2 separate regions of the Homo sapiens genome follow, and region 1 is linked to region 2. The links come from fine-mapping of genetic effects on gene expression. A gene starts in region 2. The other region holds a variant in brackets. All regions are shown on one strand. Distances are between the middles of the regions. Region 1 overlaps TLN1 (talin 1). Region 2 holds the start of TLN1 (talin 1).

Region 1 (8,718 bases), 25 kb before region 2:
AACCAGAGTGCGGACAGGGAACCAGGGAGGAGGAATGAAAGGACGTGGCAACAGCCTGGATATGGTGGCTAAGATGGTGAAGTCAAAGATGACTGAGGTGGAATCTTCATGACTGCAAGGGTGTTCCCACCATTAGGAGGACCATGTCATGGTTCGGAGGCACTGCATCTAGGTGGTGATGTCAAACAGGCAGTTGAAAATAACTCAACTCAGAACTGGATGTCTGCTTCTTACAGAATAATAATGAAAGTGGTTAAACTTGCCAAAGAAGAGAAGAGAGAAGGAAGACTATTTGTACAACCCTGGGAAGGCCTCCACATTTACTAAGTTAAAGGTGATTCAATGACGTTCGAGAAACAAGAGAAAAGCCAGTATCTAGGCCAAGGGAAGAAAGAATTTCATTTTTTTTCTTTTTTGTTTTTTTTTGAGATGGAGTCTCACTCTGTTGCCCAGGCTGGAGTGCAGTGGCGCCATCTTGGCTCACTGCAACCTCTGCCTCCCGGGTTCCAGCGATTCTCCTGCCTTAGCCTCCCAAGCAGCTGGGACTACAGGCGCGTGCCACCACGCCCAGCTAATTTTTGTATTTTTAGTAGAGACGGGGTTTCACCATATTGGCCAGGCTGGTCTCGAACTCCCGACCTTGTGATCCACCCGCCTCAGCCTCCCAAAGTGCTGGGATTACACCCGCTGGCCTCCCAAAGTGCTGGCGTGAGCCACCATGCCCAGCAGAAGAAAGAATTTCAAAGAGAGGCTTGTTAACACAGTCAGATGCTTTCGAAATATTCAAAGAGGATGAAGGCCAAGAAGTGGCCACTGAATGTAGCAACTAAGAAGAGGCCACTAGTGACTGGAGAAAGTGGGAGGGTGGTGAAAAAATACAGTTGTCACATGCTAAGGAATAAACAAGTGGGTAGGGGACAGACATGAATGTAGCTCACTGGCACAGTGGCTCATGAGTGTAATCCCAGCACTTTGGGAGGCCAAGGCGGGTGGATCACTTGAGGCCAGGAGTTCGAGACCAGCCTGGTCAACATGGTGAAACCCCATCTCTACTAAAAATACAAAAACTAGCCAGCATGGTATGCACCTGTATTCCCAGTGACTCAGGAGGCTGAGGCATGAGAAGCACTTGAACCTGGGAGGTGGAGGTTGTAGTGAGCTGAGATCACGCCACTGCACTCCAGAAGGAGGGTGTGGGAGAGCTGGGGTAGGGGAAGTCACATGGTGACTGAGGAAGATGCCATGTGAAATGGAAAGGTCACCCACACCTGGGAGAAATGACAAGAGGAGAGGGCTGAGAAGGCTGGAGGAGGATGGCTACAGAGCAAGACCCTTCTCAAAAAAAAAGTCTGGCGATAGATGAGAGAGAAGACTGTGTGTGACTCCAGCTGTGAGTATATGTGTGGCACAGGTTCACAGGCTTTCAGGATCCCTCTCTCTGACCCTAGTCACTGATGCCCCAGACTCTCACTCACCGCCAGCTCCTGCCGTATGTGTTCTGTGGTTGCCTCCAGGGCCCGAGTGCCTTTGGTGGCCTCATCTTCCACGGCTTTTACTGTCTTAAGCAATGATGTCACATTGGTCACCATCACCTGGAGGTATCAGAGGAGTGAAGAGGAATGATTTTAAGGAACAGGAGGAAGTATGTTAATCCAGTGCCCCTCCTGATGTTGCTCTCATTCTCTCCAACCTTGGCAGAGTTCTTTAGCTGCCACACAGCAGGGTCATCTCCAACTTTGCCAGCTGCAGCCTTCGTTGCACTGATGAGGTCTCCCAGGGCTTTGGCTACATCTTTCACTGCGTTGATTAGTACCACCTGTGTGGGAAAGCGTTGGCTCTGGTCTATGGGAGGAAGAAGCGGGACAGGAAGTGATTCCAGCCGGAATTAGGGGCATCAGGTCACTACCTGGGTCTCAGGGTCCTCAGCTCCCAGGCTGGCTGCACCCAGCTTGACCACATCAGCGAGGCGGGTGATGGTCGCCACGGAGGACTGGGCAGCCTGCGCCAACTTCTCCTGGCTCCCAGCTGCGTTTTGCACCAGGACCTTGGTGTCCTCCACCAGCACCTTCGCAGTCTTCAGGATGCCCTCCCTGAGGGAGGGCCCAGCTTAGTCAGATCTCCCCTACCCGCTCCAGCCCGTCCAAGGTGCCTGGTCCAGGTCTTCCCCATTCCAGCGAATGCTATCCTGCCTCTTCCAGCCCCGTGCCCCGACCTGTCTGCCTCCCTTAGGCCCAGTTCCTGTCTTACCGGTGGTCAGCGAAAGTTTCAGTACCCTCACGATTGAGCGTGCCAGCAGTGGCGAACATGATGGTGGTGTCGAGGTCAGCAATGATACCAGACACAGCGCTGGCTGCTGTGATGCAGGCCTGGGTGCCACGATTCCCAGCCTGGAGCGCAGCCAGGACGTGGGAGACCTGGGTAGGGAATGTCACATGGTGACTGTGGAAGGTGCCATGTGAAATGGAAAGGTTGCCCATGCCTGGGAGAAGTGACAACAGGAGAGGGCTGAGAGGGCTGGAGGAGGATGGCAAAGGCTACAGAGTTTGGAGGCAGTCCCACCATCTGCAGGGATGAGCACCGTCACCTTCTCAGAGACTCTCCGGGCACACTCTATGAGCTCCTTCTTGGTGTAGGCATCACTGGGGCTGCACTGCAGGGCGCCTGCCTTGGTGACCAGAGCGGCACAGCCATGGCCCAGCTCCTGTACCCGGTGTTTGATATGGGAACCTATCTGTGAGCCAAGGGAAAGACAGATGGATTTTACAAGGGGCACTCAGGGTACCTTCACTGTGCTTGGAAAAGTCACTAAGGACATAGAAAAAAACATGCATTGTAGACTAAAGAAGCAGAGAGAGAAGGTTCCCAGCACAAGGACGTTTCCGGTTGCATATCCTTTAGGCAGAAGGTCACCTCCTACACACAGAAAATAGTAGCACGCAGGCACTAAGTGGTGAGGATTGTGTTAAGCACAGTGGGGAGAAGGGGAGGAGCACTTTATGCTTGAATGTGGGAATCAGAGGGCCGTGGATTACCATGTGGCCTGTATGGGGTTATGGAGGGTTTTAAGGATGGGCATTACATGTGTCCTGCTAAGATCCAATTACTTGCTTTCTTGGAAAGCTAGAGGCTTAGGTAAGGAAGAGCTTCATGAGTTTGCAACAAGAAAGAACAAGAACATGGACTGGCAGCACAACAGAGAAGCAGCTGTAGGCCCAGATGAGGGTCGGCAGAAGCCAGAAAGGCAGGCCCGGGAAGGCTCCAGATTCTGAGCTGTTT[C/G]CTTTGTACCTGTGACTGAAGGCTTTGATCCTCTGTCCCTACCCAGAGCCTCACTAGTCTTCAGCAGAGTGGCCCTGAGGCTGTTCCCCTTTCTATGAAAGACCAGAGAGGGTGGGGGTGGGACAGCCCTAGACACTGACACATCAGGAACAAGGGGCAGGGGGCAGGGCAGAGTTGCCTCCACGTTTACCTCTTCATTTTCAGCAGCCACCGCTGCAGGCTTGGCCTCCGAGGCCAGACGGCCATAGTCACTGGTCAGCTGGTTAGCAAGAGGGCCCAGCTCCTCTGGGCTGGTGTTTGACTTGGTAACCTGGTGATAATGGAACGAGTGAAGTTATATCCAAAGTCAGCTCTCCGAGGGCAGTCCTCTGGGACTCGCCCAAACTCACCATCTCCTGAACGGTCACTGCAATGGCCTTGGCTGTCCGCACCATAGTTGTTTGGTAATCCACGAAGGAACCTTCTGGTTCACCCATTGGTCCTTCATCTAGCTGAGGGGGGAGGATAGGGAAAGGGAAAGACTGTTAGGGTCTCTGCCACTGTGCTTGGAGGCTCTGGCCCAGGGTAGCCTCAGTGTCCAAAGGCACCCCAAGACTCTAACCTGGTTGATGGCCTGGGTGATGGAGTCCACCATGCCACCCACGACCCCAGCAGCACTGGCTGCCTCGTTGAGGGTTGTTGTCAGGTCCTCTACGGCCTCGGTCATCATCTGCACAGCCTCCTCCAGGGCTTCCTGGGTGTGAGCTGCTTGCTGTGGGGAGAGGAGAGGAGCTCTGTTGTTCCTGTTTCTCCAGCCTCCTGCTAGTAACAGCTCCTCCCTCCCAACCCTCAATACCTTTGGGTTACCACCAGCCTCCTTGGCAGTGTATAGCAACTGCAGGGCAGACTCTGCCAATGTTTTAGTCTGGTCCAGGAGTGCCATCTGCTGCGGGTGGCTCAGGGTCTTGGAGGCAGCACCCACTGCAGCCAGGGTGAGCGGCTCAAAGTACTGCGCCATCTGGGACACCTGAGGCAAGGGGTTGGACTAGGGGTCAGGTCCCCTCTCTCTCACCCTACTCCCTGGGACTTCCCATGAGTCTCCATAGGTACCTTGTGTCCCAGCTGGGAGGCTTCAGCCCGGGCAGCATTGGCCAGCGGCTCAATGAGATGGGAGATCTCTTGGACTGCAGTGAGCATCTGAGTGTGCAAGGCCTGGGGAGGAAGTGGACATTAGCCCTGATGGTGACCTGCAATAGGACCCTCTGGCTACAAAGAACTGCTCTTCTGTCCATACCAAATACCCTAACCCTCCTTCGCACATCCCAGCCTTTGATGTCCCTAAGAAGCCACTCCTTGATCCCCCAGCTTCTTTGAGTCTGATATTTCTCTTCCTAGACACATCTTTCCATATAACCCTCTCCCTCTCACCTCTTGAGAGATTCCCTCACGGGGAGCAAGCTGCTGGCTGACTGCAGCGAGGGAAGCCTGGTCTAGGTCCCGTAGACAACTGTTCAGAGCTGCAATGGCCGTTTCACACTCCAGCTGCCCTGGAGCCTTGTCCCTGCAGACACATCATGGGCTCCAACACCAAGAACATCCCCTACTGCAAGGCCAGCCTATCCTTCCCCTGTATCCTCCCAACACCATCCCATCTCATTGCACTCAAGTGCCCATCCTCCATTCTGCCACAATGTATGCCCCCCAGCCACACTGGTTCCCCATCCCTCAATACCTCATGCTTGTAATTAGCTTCTTGATGGAGTCTGAGACAGTACGGGAGTGGCCGGCCAGCACCGACCAGCTCGGGGGGTCCCGGGGATTGACTGCGAGGGCCCGGGCTGTCTGGATGAGTCCCCCGGCACTCTCTAACATTGTCTTGGCAGAGATCACAATGGGCTCCATGGCAGCCCGACCCTGGGGAGAGGGGAGGCAGGAAGGTAAGTCTCAGGAGTCCCTGGAAGATGAGGTGATAAGCTGGCCCATCAGTTCCCCCTTCACATCGCCTCACCTCAGGGCTGATCTGGGCAGGAATGCTGGAGAACTCAGGGTTGGACGCAAAGGCACTCAGATTGTCCACAGCCTCCAGCAGAGGGGCTGTTGCTGCTCGGCACTGGGCACGGTTCTCCTCTGTGAAGGCCCCATCTAGCGCCTAGAAGTGACAGAGAGGCTCTCAGGACTTGGGATGCAGTCATAGGGGGTATAGGAAGTGAAGTCCAGGTCTCCTTCCTGGGACTTACAGGATTTGGGGAGAGGCTAGGTGGTCAGTCTGAATAGAAAGAGCTTGGGCTCAGGCAGAGGGGATTTGGTAGAAGGCTTCAGAGAATAACTGGGGGACTCGGGGGAGAAGATAGGACAGGTCAGGGAGAGGCTGGGAATTCAAGCAATGGGAACCTTGATGGTCTTGACAAGATTAGCTGTGCTGTTGGCCACCTCCTTGGCTGACTGTACAAACTGGCGCTTGGCAGTAGGATTGGTGGTACGGGCAGAAGCCAGGCGACAGCTGTTACACAGTGCAGAGGTGTGTTTAGCCACAATGGTGGCTGCAGAGAGCACCTGAGGAGACACATGGAAGAGCCACGATGAGGGCAGGAAGGAGGTGTACATACCCAAGGAGGAGCCATTTTAGGGTCAGGGGATGGAGAGCAATACCCTGAGGAGTCAAAACAGGAATAACAGAGTCACCTGAAAAGTCAAGATCTAGGAGACAGAGATACCCAAAGATGAACTGGGCATGGGAGAGGAAAGACATACTAATGGAGAAACCATAAGAGGGCATGTGGGAGAGTAAGCTCGAACATCTACAGAGAAGTTGTGAATTTAGCAGTAACTGATAAATGATGAGACCCATGGCAGAAAAAGACAGTTACCCAAAAAGAAGCTGTGTGTGCAAGGTCAGAGATGGGTCCCTGCCCTCTTTCCCACATGCCTCACCTCCCTCTACTCCACGGGGTCGGTCTGCCCTTTCCCAGACTCGCCTGTGGTCCCTGTTCCCTTGAGTTACCTGGGCCTGGGTACAGCCAGGCTCTCCCAAACTCTGGCAGGCCATCTGAATTGCCTGGTTTGCACGGGCAAACTGTGTGGGCTCCACTAGCCCTTGCTGTCCAGCTTGGCTATTGGGGTCAGAGACACCAACCAGATATGCAGCCTGGGAAGAGAAAAGGGGGTGGGGGTGAGGAATAAAGATTGCAGGTGGGAAATGAATAGTGATAGTAGGGACAAAAGAGAGCAGAGGTAAGTTTAGAGAATAGGGCTTATTTTCCAGAGTTCTCCATGAGTGGAGATACATTAGCAAACAATGGTTACACTATAAAGAAGAAAAAAAATACTCTCCTGTTTTCATTAAGTATATTCAAGCATTTCAGAAGATTAAAAAAGTTAATAAAAAGGAAAACTACATAGCAAGGGTTTTTATCCAATCTCTATTTAGATATGTTTGTGTATGTTGGGTCTTAGAGTGAAAAGTATGGCTTACTGTAAGTAGCAGTAAAACGTTTGAGAGCCATATATAAATACACACCTTTGTGCACACAAGCAAAGCCTCTTTTAAAGACAGTTCAAAACTGATGAAGGTTATTAGGCTAATTCACATTTATAGCACCTCCATGCGTCAGATATTTGGAAAGGAAGGGAGGGGTTAAAAAGCCATTTTTATGATGGAAAGAACATCCTAATGTTTGATTCATACTTCAATCAATACACAGTAGCTTTGCTTTTTCCTCTATGCATTTTCAGAAGGTGGGGGGAAAAAAACCAAACAAACAACAAAGAGGTTTAGTGAAACCCTGTCTCTACTAAAAATACAAAAATCAGACGGGTGTGGTGGCAGGCGCCTGTAGTCCCAGCTACTCGGGAGGCTGAGGTAGGAGAATCACTTGAACCCGGGAGGCGGAGGTTGCAGTGAGCCGAGATTATGCCTCTGCACTCCAGCCTGGCGACAGAGCGAGACTCCGTCTCAAAAAACAAACAAACAAAAAACCAAAAAAACAAAAAAACAAAATCAAACAAGCCATCTAGAGCAAGGCGCCTATTCTGACAGGGCACAGGGAGGTGGTGGAGATGGAGGGCTAGGATGGTAGGCTTTCAGGGAAAATAGTCTGAAGTGAACTCTTATGATGCCAGTTTGTTTTAAGGATTCATATACTAAAGCAAAATACTTTACAGCTAATAGGTAGTTTTATACTTGATAATGTGGGAAAAGGCAAAGTTAAGTGATAACTCAAGTAACTGGAAATTTTGTCACTAGTACTATTTTAAGAAAGTAGTGATTGGCCGGGCGCGGTGGCTCACGCCTGTAATCCCAGCACTTTGGGAGGTCGAGACGGGCGGATCACGAGGTCAGGAGATCGAGACCATCCTGGCTAACACGGTGAAACCCCGTCTCTACTAAAAATACAAAAATTAGCCGGGCATGGTGGCGCGCGCCTGTAGTCCCAGCTACACGGGAGGCTGAGGCAGGAGAATGGCGTGAACCCGGGAGGCGGAGCTTGCAGTGAGTCTAGATCGCGCCACTGCACTCCAGCCTGGGCGACAGAGCGAAACTCGGTCTCAAAAAAAAAAAAAAAAAAAAAAAAAAAAGAAAGTAGTGATTACAGGCCAGGCGCGGTGGCTCACGCCTGTAATTCCAGCACTTTGGGAGGCCGAGGCAGGTGGATCACGAGTCAGGATATCGAGACCATCCTGGCTAACATGGTGAAACCCTGTCTTTACTAAAAAAAAAAAAAAAAATACAAAAAATTAGCCGGGTGTGGTGGTGAGCGCCTGTAGTCCCAGCTACTTGGAAGGCTGAGGCAGGAGACTAGCGTGAACCCGGGAGGCGGAGCTTGCAGTGAGCCTAGATCACGCCATTGCACTTCAGCCTGGGCGACAGAGCGAAACGCTGTCTCAAAAAAAAAAAAAAAAAAAAAGAAAGTAGTAATAACATGAAAAAATAGTTTGTATAAGCTAATTAGTATATTTTGAGAAAGCCAGCTGGAAAAGGCCTCACGGTTGGGCAGTGTAATCCTAACCAAAGTACCAGGGTTCAGGAATTACAGAAATCAGAACTGCTGGTGTTCAGTAATTGCTGACAAGTGTCTCCACTTCAGGAGGAGGACAACCCAGATTCCATAGAGTTGGCTTTGCAAACATAAACTTCTTGATTTATCTACAGGTATGTCAGGCTGAGAGAAAATGGGGTAAAGAAAGTAGGGGCCATTCAAAGAACCCATCTCAGGAAAATAACCTGTGCAGCTGCCTCGGTGAAGCCACAAAGTGCCTTTGAGGCTGTGGAAATGGCATCTCCAAACTCTGGCAGGTTTCCGTTCTTGGCATTTTGGGAGATGCCAGTCATGGCCTCGCCCAGCACCTGAGGAACAGAGGACATCAGGGGAGTCAGAGCATGTCCTCAGAACCCCAGGGCAGCATCTGGTTAGCTCCATCCTACTGCCCTCTCTCCTCCGAGTTCCTGGCTGTGCTGACCTTTGA
Region 2 (8,718 bases):
AGCAGGGTGAGAGGGGAAGGCTGGAAAGCAGAGATGGGGGTGTTAGGATACAGAAGGCATTTGAAAGCCAGGGAAGTTAAGAAGGGGTAGAGGGTAAAGAAGTTAGGAGAGATGGGATGAGGAGAATTGAAAATCTAAGTAGAAACAAGAGACAGGAGGCAGGTATGAAAATGGTCTAGATCAGCGGTCTGGTACCAAGTGGCAGATAGACCATTTCTGACCTTACAAGCAGTCCAGAGTCTCAAAAGAGAAGAACCACAGCTCTCTGTCTTTACTCCCCAATAAGAGAGGACCCTCCCAGTCTCCCCAGTTCCAGCTCTCTGCCCCCTCCCCACTCCTGGGGCACTTTGCCCAACCTTATTACTATCCGCTTGTGTCCCAGCTGGACAGACCTGGCTATGGGGTTGCTGACCATGAAAGAATGAGGGCTGGGCTGGTGGATCCGAGAAGCTGGAGGAGTCTGTGGAGCCAAGAAGCAGGACTGAAAGGACCCTTCACACTAAGCTGAAACTGCATGTCTCCCCCCATTTCCTCTGGACACTTAGACACCCCCTTCCTCCTCAAGCACGGAAGCCTCTGGTGAGACCCCGATAAGGGAGCTGAGTCATGCCTACCCTTACTCCCCAGCTGGTCCAGAGTGGATATTCACACAGCTACAAGAGGGTGTGTGGACGCGAAGAACTGATCAGTGAATTGTGGGTGGTGGTGGCAAAGAACAAGGCTGCTACAAGTATGAGTAGAAGCTAGCTCATTCCTCCTTTGGCCTGAGAACTTTGCTCCCTTTTCCATTGTGTTTGATGGAACAGCAACTCCCCACTGCCGTGTCCCCCTCCCAGGGAACTCCTCCTCCCTCAATACATTCCTGCGATGCATTCCAAAGAAGTTGGGCAATTGGAGGGGGGGAATGGAGGACAGGAGGTCAAATCCCAGCAAGGAATGGAATGTAAGAGTATTGGAGCTAAGAAAGTTGGGGTACTTGGAGAATATAGTCAGAGCAGATACCCACAAGGGGAATTGCAGAAAGATAGGGAGTTACAGACAGGAACAAAAGGAAAGAGCTTAAGACAGTCAGAATATAAGAGGGATGGGGGAGTAACACTCAGTCTGTTACCAAATTTGGCCTCTGAGTCCGCAACCGCTGGCAGTGGGGGAGGGCTGTGGGTGAGACTGACATATCCGGCCTCAGGCTGCTGGAGACTCATTTAGAGCTGGACTGGGCAGCTAGCTGAAGGGCTGCACAGAACTTCCCCCGGTACAGCCCCTCCATACTCAAATGCACACTCATTCTCCCCAGATGCACCCCAGCCTAGGCAGAGCTCTTTCCCACAAAGCTACCTTACTCTCTCTATACACACATTATCTCAATCACACAGCCCCCACACAGATCCCATCACGACTGCATTATCTTCTCCTAGGGAGCCCATCCTATGCACACAGCTTTTGCACAGATAACCTCCATAACAAGCACACCCGGCACCCAGTGTCTCTCCTCCCATTATGTAGACATTCTCCATTCACCCAGCAAGCATTCCTTGAGGGCCAGCTGTGGGGAAGACCCTGGGCCAAACTTTCAGTGGCTGGGGACCAAGATCAGTAAGACCTAGCCTTTGAGTTCAAAGGGCTCCCAGTCCACGAGATGAGTGAATAAGCCAAGTACAGAATCACAACGGAGGGCAGGATGTGGTAAGAGCCAAAAGGTGTGTGCTCAGAGAGATCCCTTTAGGTCAGGGAAGGGGAACCAAAAAGTCTCCATGATAAGTATCATTTGAAGCTAGAATTTTAAAAAATAGAGATAATAAAAAACAATAGTGATCTGCCATTTATTGACTATGTCACTTGCATTGTATACATAATTTCATTTAATCCTTACAGTAGGTGTCATTATTTCCATTTTTACAGATCAGAAAACAGACTCAAAGATGTTAAATACTTGTTCAAATACTTCTCCAAATAATAAGTTGTGAAGCCAGGATCCGAACCCAGGTTTCTGACTGCAAAGCCCAAGCTTTCTCCACTACGCCAGCCAGCTGGAGATGTGTCAGGGGTAGTTTTCACTCCAGGCAGAGAAATAGCATAAGCAAAGATGGAGAAGCAGTAAATCGTGGAGGAGCATTCAGGGAAGTGAGCAGGCAGGCTGTTGAAGCACAGGGGTACCTGCAAGGGAGCAGTGGTGGGGAAGTCAGGGTTAGGATGGAAAGGCAGAGGAAGACTGGAGAGGGGTATGAGGAATTTTACTTATTGGAGGACAAAAGGAAGCCAAGGGAGTCTTTGAGCAGAGAAGAGACATAACCGGAACTGGATTTTAGAAAAATAACTCTGGCAGTTACCTTGGAGATTAGTTAGAAGGACACTGTATTAGTACAAATTAAAGGTAATGAAGCCGGAGTTGGAATGGCATTGAGGAAGATGTCACTCAGAACAAGTTTGGGGAGGTAGAAATGACAGGACCTAATAACTACTAAGGTAGACAGGTTAGAGTCCCACAGCTTCCTATCATCAGCAGCCACTTTAGCGGCTGGGGCAGCTTGAGTTTAGGCGACGAATTGGGAAGAGGGGAAAGGATCAGGTTGGGCAGAGAATGTGAGGATGAGGCTGTGGTTACGGGATGTGGTTAGGCTGTGGGGAAAAAGGGTATGAGTATATGATTAGTAGCCACTAGGGGCAGATGGGGTTGGGTTAGTGACTGCATCAGGCTGGGAATGGGGAAGACAGGGTGTAGAAAAAGGATGAGAAGACAGGGTGTAGAAAAAGAATGCTGGTGATGATGGTGTTTGGAAAAATACATATACATAAGATACATATATGACCAGTCACTGCATCAGGTTGGGGGAAGGGGAATGATTACATGGATGGTGGCTAAGTCAGGGAATGATGGGGTGAGGTCAGAGGCCAGGTCAGGCTATAGGAGGTTGAGAAGAGCTGGGCCTGTGGTCAGTCACTAAATCAGACTGGGGTGGGGGTGGGAAAGTGAAGGGACATTGGCAATGTCTAAGTAAAGCTGGAGCTGGGATGGGGGATGGGGTACAGCCAGTGGCTGGGTCAGGCTGAGTAGAGGATAGTGCTGTGGTCAGTGGCAGGGTCAGGCTGGGAGTGAAGTGGGGGTGTGGTCAGTGGCCTGGCTGGGCGTGGGATCAGCAAGACCCAGTTTCCTCTTTGGGTCTCGTTTCCTCTTTTCTGTTGGGGAGTGGGGGAAGGGGATCTACAAATGGTCCAAGAAATTAAAAGAGGCTTAGATCCAGGGGGTGACACACAGCAGGGGATGGGAGTAGGGTATTCAGCAGATGACCAGGTGGAATGTAGGTACATGACTGGGTGAAAATGGTAGGAGAGTAATTTAAAATGATGGGAAAGCTCAGGTTTTGATGAGGGTAAATTCAGGTAGGATGTGCGGATTAAAGGTTGGTGAGGGAGGTAGAACTAAGGATGGGAACGGATGATAAGATGAGCATGGGAGAGTTAAAGGCAAGGGAAGTATTTTGTAAGGGGATAGGCAGGATGGGTGTGAAATGCAGAGTCAGGGATGAGAGTTGGAGAGGAGGGCTTAATACCAAGAGAACAAGTGAAGTGGGAGAAGCAGGGCTAAACTTTCAGGGGATTCAGTTATTCCCTTCTCCCATGGCAACAGTGATTCCTTGGTTAGCTTCCCCCATAGTCATCAGCTCCTTCTTCCCTAGGCAGTCCCCAACTTGTGACTAGGCCTTGTACATCCTGGGTCCCTATTTCCCACCTATGTTGTCTGTAAACAACACAGTCCAGAATCTCTGTCCCCTAACTGTGGTGGCCACAGCAAGGGCCTTGGGCTTAGAGAATGGAATAAAGAAGCTGGAATCCCAGATGCCTGCAATTCTAGCTAAAGCCAGAACGCTAGCCTGAAATTAGTTTATCTCTCTGGGTAAAAAGAAGCCCCTGTAACTACATAGGAATAAAGGATTTCCCTACAAAAGAAGGGCATTTACCTACTGCCAACCTCTTAAATTTTATCTGCTCAAGGTCAACTATGCTAGCCTCAAACCACAACCCCTAAAGCTGCCCCAAATTCCTAACATTAACCCCACCTCTAATTTGTTTCCTGATTCCCAGTACCGGCTTGGACATTCATCCCTTTCCTAGCACAGACTCATATCCAATCCCTGATCCCTGAAACTGATCTAAGTTTTGCCTTTAGCACCAAATCCCCTGATGTTAACCCTAAATGTTGACCCCTAAGCCTAAAGTTCATTTATAATTTGATTCCTAACTCACGCTTTCACTGTTTATCCTTAACACCGACCATGCCAACATTCTTTAATCCCTCAAACAAGCTCTAACCTGATTCCTGTTGTTTGTTGACCCTTAACCTGACCCTGAACTCAAATTATGACGTATGATGGCCATCCCAGCAAACAAGATAATGACCGTAATCTAAACCTTACCTATCTAAAACGGACCTGACTCACACTAACTCTTAAGTTTTAACCCCAGCTTTTAACTCCTATAGCGACCCTTGATTCCTAAACGGACCCCACCTAATCCCCAACTCACCCAAAGCTTTCCTACCCACATGCCCGCTATCAGCTAACACCAAAGCCCGTCCCCGCCCTGCGCCCCGCTGCCACCCGACTCCTCACGCTCCCCAAAGCCTATCCCAGACATAGGACTGCTCCCAGGAAAGGCCTGTCTTCCCCAAGACGGCCTACTTCACGCCGAGCTCAAGCCGAGATGCGCTGGACGCTGACCTCTCCAACTAATAGGACCCGAACCGGACACGCAAGAGAGGCAGGGCCCGCCCGCCCCGGGGCCAGGCCCCGCGGCCCCACCCTAAGGCCCCCGCCCGGCCCGGTCTGGCCTACCTGCGCTGCCTGGCTCTGCGCCCCGCCCGCCGGCCCGCCGCCCCGCCGCTTCTCGGGTCGCCCTCGGGCTCCGGCCTCGCCCTCCCTTCGACACTCTCTCGGCCACTTCCGTCCTGGGAACGTCCCCCACCCGCGGGCGGCGCCCTGGGCCCGCGCTCTATGGTCGCGGGGGGCAGGCAGGAAGCTGCTCTGGCCCCGTTCTCGATGCTCGGGAGCCGCCAAAGCCCGGCAGCCCCTCCCTGGCAGGAAGCGAGGGTGCGGCGCAATCCGGAGAGGACGCCAGGACGACGCCCGAGTTCCCTTTCAGGCTAGAACTCTTCCTTTTTCTAGCTTGGGGTAGAAGGCGGAGCCGGAGCCCCGGAACCCCCGCCCTCGGGGTGCGAGGCGGCAGCAGGGCCGTCCCCTACATTTGCATAGCCCCTGGGACGTGGCGCTGCACCCAAGCCTCTTCTCAGTTGGAGGGAACTCCAAGTCCCACAGTGCCACGGGGTGGGGTGCGTCACTTTCGCTGCGTTGGAGGCTGAGGAGAATTGAGCCTGGGAGGCGGGTCCGGAGAGGGCTATGGAAAGCCGCCGGCGGGGAATCCCGGCCGTAGAGGGACAGTGGATAGGTGCCCGAGGCCTACAGCTGGCCTGGGGCTCGTGTCTGGGCTTCGGACGTTGGGGCCCGGTGGCCCACCCTTTCCGTAGTTGTCCCAAATGGAGCTGGAATTGGATGCTGGTGACCAAGACCTGCTGGCCTTCCTGCTAGAGGAAAGTGGAGATTTGGGGACGGCACCCGATGAGGCCGTGAGGGCCCCACTGGACTGGGCGCTGCCGCTTTCTGAGGTAGGTTGGGGTTCTGACTGGGGAAAGCGTGGGATGTCCATGAAGTCAGGTGATGGTGATAAGGTCAAGGCCTGTTCATTGGAACCCTGCGCAGGTACCGAGCGACTGGGAAGTAGATGATTTGCTGTGCTCCCTGCTGAGTCCCCCAGCGTCGTTGAACATTCTCAGCTCCTCCAACCCCTGCCTTGTCCACCATGACCACACCTACTCCCTCCCACGGGAAACTGTCTCTATGGATCTAGGTGAGTCTGAAATAAGTTTGCGGGGAGGACAGGGTTCATGGGCCTGGCTATTCATACTTTCCCTTTTGCAGAGAGTGAGAGCTGTAGAAAAGAGGGGACCCAGATGACTCCACAGCATATGGAGGAGCTGGCAGAGCAGGTACTTGACTTGATTTTCAGGAGATTACTCTCACATTCCCCAGGTGGGGGCAGGATTCCCCATTCCTCTCTGACATCCCCATGCAACTGCCGTCCACTTTCTTGTTACCCTAGGAGATTGCTAGGCTAGTACTGACAGATGAGGAGAAGAGTCTATTGGAGAAGGAGGGGCTTATTCTGCCTGAGACACTTCCTCTCACTAAGGTAAGACTCTCATTGGTTGAACAAAGGCTGAAAAGGGATTAAAAGTCCCAAGTAGGCAAATTCTGTTAACTTTATATCAATAACTTTAAAAAAGGATTGAGGTGAGAAACTTAGTAGATTTATTGCTAATAGGAAGTTGAGGCAGGTACACAATATGCCAGATGCAAGGGCAGATCCTCGTTTTTGTTGGGCTTATACAAATTTTGGTGTTCTGTTAAAAAAATAACTCAAAATTATCAGTGCAACATTAGTATTGGGCCTTGGAAAGGACTGTGTAAGTGAAGGGCCTTGACACTTCGTTGGCTTCATAGTAATCCACCTCTTGCTGAATGGTAGAACTGTTTAGAGAGTTCAACAGGGTTGGACTAAGCAGTACATGAATAAATGTAAAATCCTTAGTTTTCAGTTTTAAGCAATGAGTGGCAACTTCACAAGCAGAGTACTGGGGTACTATGATGAAATCAGTGCTCATTAATAGAAAGGTTACAGGAATATATATATATTTTTTGACAAGGTCTTGCTCTGTTGCCCAGGCTGGAGTGCACTGATGTGATCATGGCTCACTGCAGCCTTGACTTTCTGGGCTTAGGTGATTCTCCCACCTCAGCCTCCCGAGTAGCTGAGACTACAGGTGCACACTACCCTGCCCGGCAATTTTTTTTTTGGTATTTTTAGTAGAAATGGGGTTTTGCCTTGTTGCCAGGCTGGTCTCGAACTCCTGGGCTCAAGTGATCTACCCACCTTGGCCTCCCAAAGTGAAGAATTTTAATTTCTTCAAAGTACAAGATGAGTCAGCAGTGTGATGTGGCTACTAAGAAAGTTCATGGGATTTGGAAACTGTAGCAATAGAGTTATTGTCTCTACAAGTCACTCTCTTGCTTTCCTTGATACTGGCTAGAGCACATCTTTGACAGATACTAAGAGGATGCAGTCTATCCTGAGAAGATGAGTTAAAAATTTTGTCTTTTTTTTTTTCTTTAAGCTCTGAGGAAATGTTAAGTGCCTTAAAATAGCTAAACAGGGTTTATTCTATTTGGCCCCAGAGATACTAGGTAAGTCCAACGGATAGAAATTATAAGGAGGCAGCTGTTGGTTCAGGATAAGGAAGTTTTTATTTGCTTGTTTGAAGACAGGTTCTTGCTTTATTGCCCAGGTTGGAGAATAGTGGCGAGATCATGGCTCACTACAGCTTCAACCTCTCAGGCTCAAGTGATCCTCCTTCCTCAGTCTCCTGAGTAGCAGGGACCACAGGCATGTGCCACCACACCCGGCTAATTTTTTATTTTTAGTAGAGACAAGGTCTCACTATGTTGCTCAGGCTGGTCTCAAACTCCTGGGCTCAACCGGTCCTCCTGTCTTAGCTCCCCAAAGTGTTGGGATTACAGGCATGAGCCACGTCGCCTGAATACTGCCCGACCAGTTTTTTTTTTAATAGTTTAAAATGGTCTGGCTTGTTAGGGTTAACACCTGGTCCGTGGAGGCATTCAGAAAGAATCTGAATGCCTGTTGGTCAGGGAAGCTGTAGAAGGGATTTCTGTATTGGAAAGAGATTGATCTCAGTTGCGTTTCAACTCCTTTTTCTAGAGTTCCTCTAATGATATCCCTTTCCCTGTTTCCTTTCAGACAGAGGAACAAATTCTGAAACGTGTGCGGAGGAAGATTCGAAATAAAAGATCTGCTCAAGAGAGCCGCAGGAAAAAGAAGGTGTATGTTGGGGGTTTAGAGAGCAGGTATGAAAGGGAGAGGGACTCTGTTGTAAGTATTAGGTTTTTGAAGGGAGGATACAGGCCATATCCCCGTATCTTTGTTATTTCCCCCAGGGTCTTGAAATACACAGCCCAGAATATGGAGCTTCAGAACAAAGTACAGCTTCTGGAGGAACAGAATTTGTAAGTATCCCTCCAAACCATTCCCTTCCTATGCCCCTCATTTAATGCTTTCTCACTCTTTCCCCTGCCCTACACTTGATTTCTAACTGGGCAGCTGCCTTCACTAGGTCTCTGATTCCAAGAAGCTCCCAGTAGTGAGGAATACATTTACAAGTAACTAAGAATAAGTTAAGTACCAAGAAAAAGAAAGGGGGTAAGAAAGACGTCATGGGCTTTCATAGTAGTTAGGATTCTGGGGTTGGGTTGGGAAAGCATTCTAGGCAGAGAGAAAGCATCCTAGGCAAGAGGACTAGTCCAGCATAGTCATCTTGGGCTGGAACTCTTAACACACATGAGCTGGGACAGAAGGTAGAGAACATAGAAAATGCCTGGTGAGGATTATGTGCATAGCTGATCAGACAGTGGGGAACGACTGATGATATTCGCAAAGGAGGTTAAGTCCTGGCAGAGTTTTTTTGTTTTGTTTTGTTTTTGCTTTTTGTTGTTGTTGTTGTTTTAATGAGGAACTTCAGGCATTTTGTCCAGAGAGGAAGAAGTCGTTTGCAAAAATAGAATGAAAAGTAAGAGAGAGGATCCAGTGCAGAGATGG

The links. PIP is the estimated chance that this variant, and not a neighbour inherited with it, causes the effect.
Region 1: its variant is fine-mapped to the expression of TLN1 in whole blood (TOPMed, PIP 0.93).

What each region holds. Positions count from the first base shown.
Region 1 is chr9:35,702,085-35,710,802 of GRCh38, forward strand. TLN1 (talin 1) reads right to left here. Exons shown (of 57, transcript NM_006289.4): 32 at 8,713-8,718; 33 at 8,477-8,599; 34 at 6,257-6,400; 35 at 5,647-5,808; 36 at 5,264-5,404; 37 at 4,988-5,169; 38 at 4,684-4,816; 39 at 4,366-4,467; 40 at 4,112-4,282; 41 at 3,878-4,027; 42 at 3,666-3,767; 43 at 3,467-3,586; 44 at 2,585-2,731; 45 at 2,248-2,414; 3 more. It overlaps MIR6852 (microRNA 6852), which reads right to left and starts at 8,657; the gene lies at 8,592-8,657. RefSeq lists an enhancer at 8,697-8,718. The variant C/G (reference allele first, on the strand shown) is at 3,277.
Region 2 is chr9:35,727,246-35,735,963 of GRCh38, forward strand. It overlaps TLN1 (talin 1), which reads right to left and starts at 4,950. Exons shown (of 57, transcript NM_006289.4): 1 at 4,830-4,950. It overlaps CREB3 (cAMP responsive element binding protein 3), which reads left to right and starts at 5,421. Exons shown (of 9, transcript NM_006368.5): 1 at 5,421-5,656; 2 at 5,751-5,898; 3 at 5,970-6,037; 4 at 6,151-6,240; 5 at 7,864-7,970; 6 at 8,061-8,129. The coding sequence starts at 5,528. MIR6853 (microRNA 6853) reads left to right here and starts at 5,677; the gene lies at 5,677-5,750. RefSeq lists enhancers at 1-662, 3,058-3,117, 4,507-4,556, 5,357-5,406, 5,457-5,546 and silencers at 4,737-5,026, 5,067-5,226.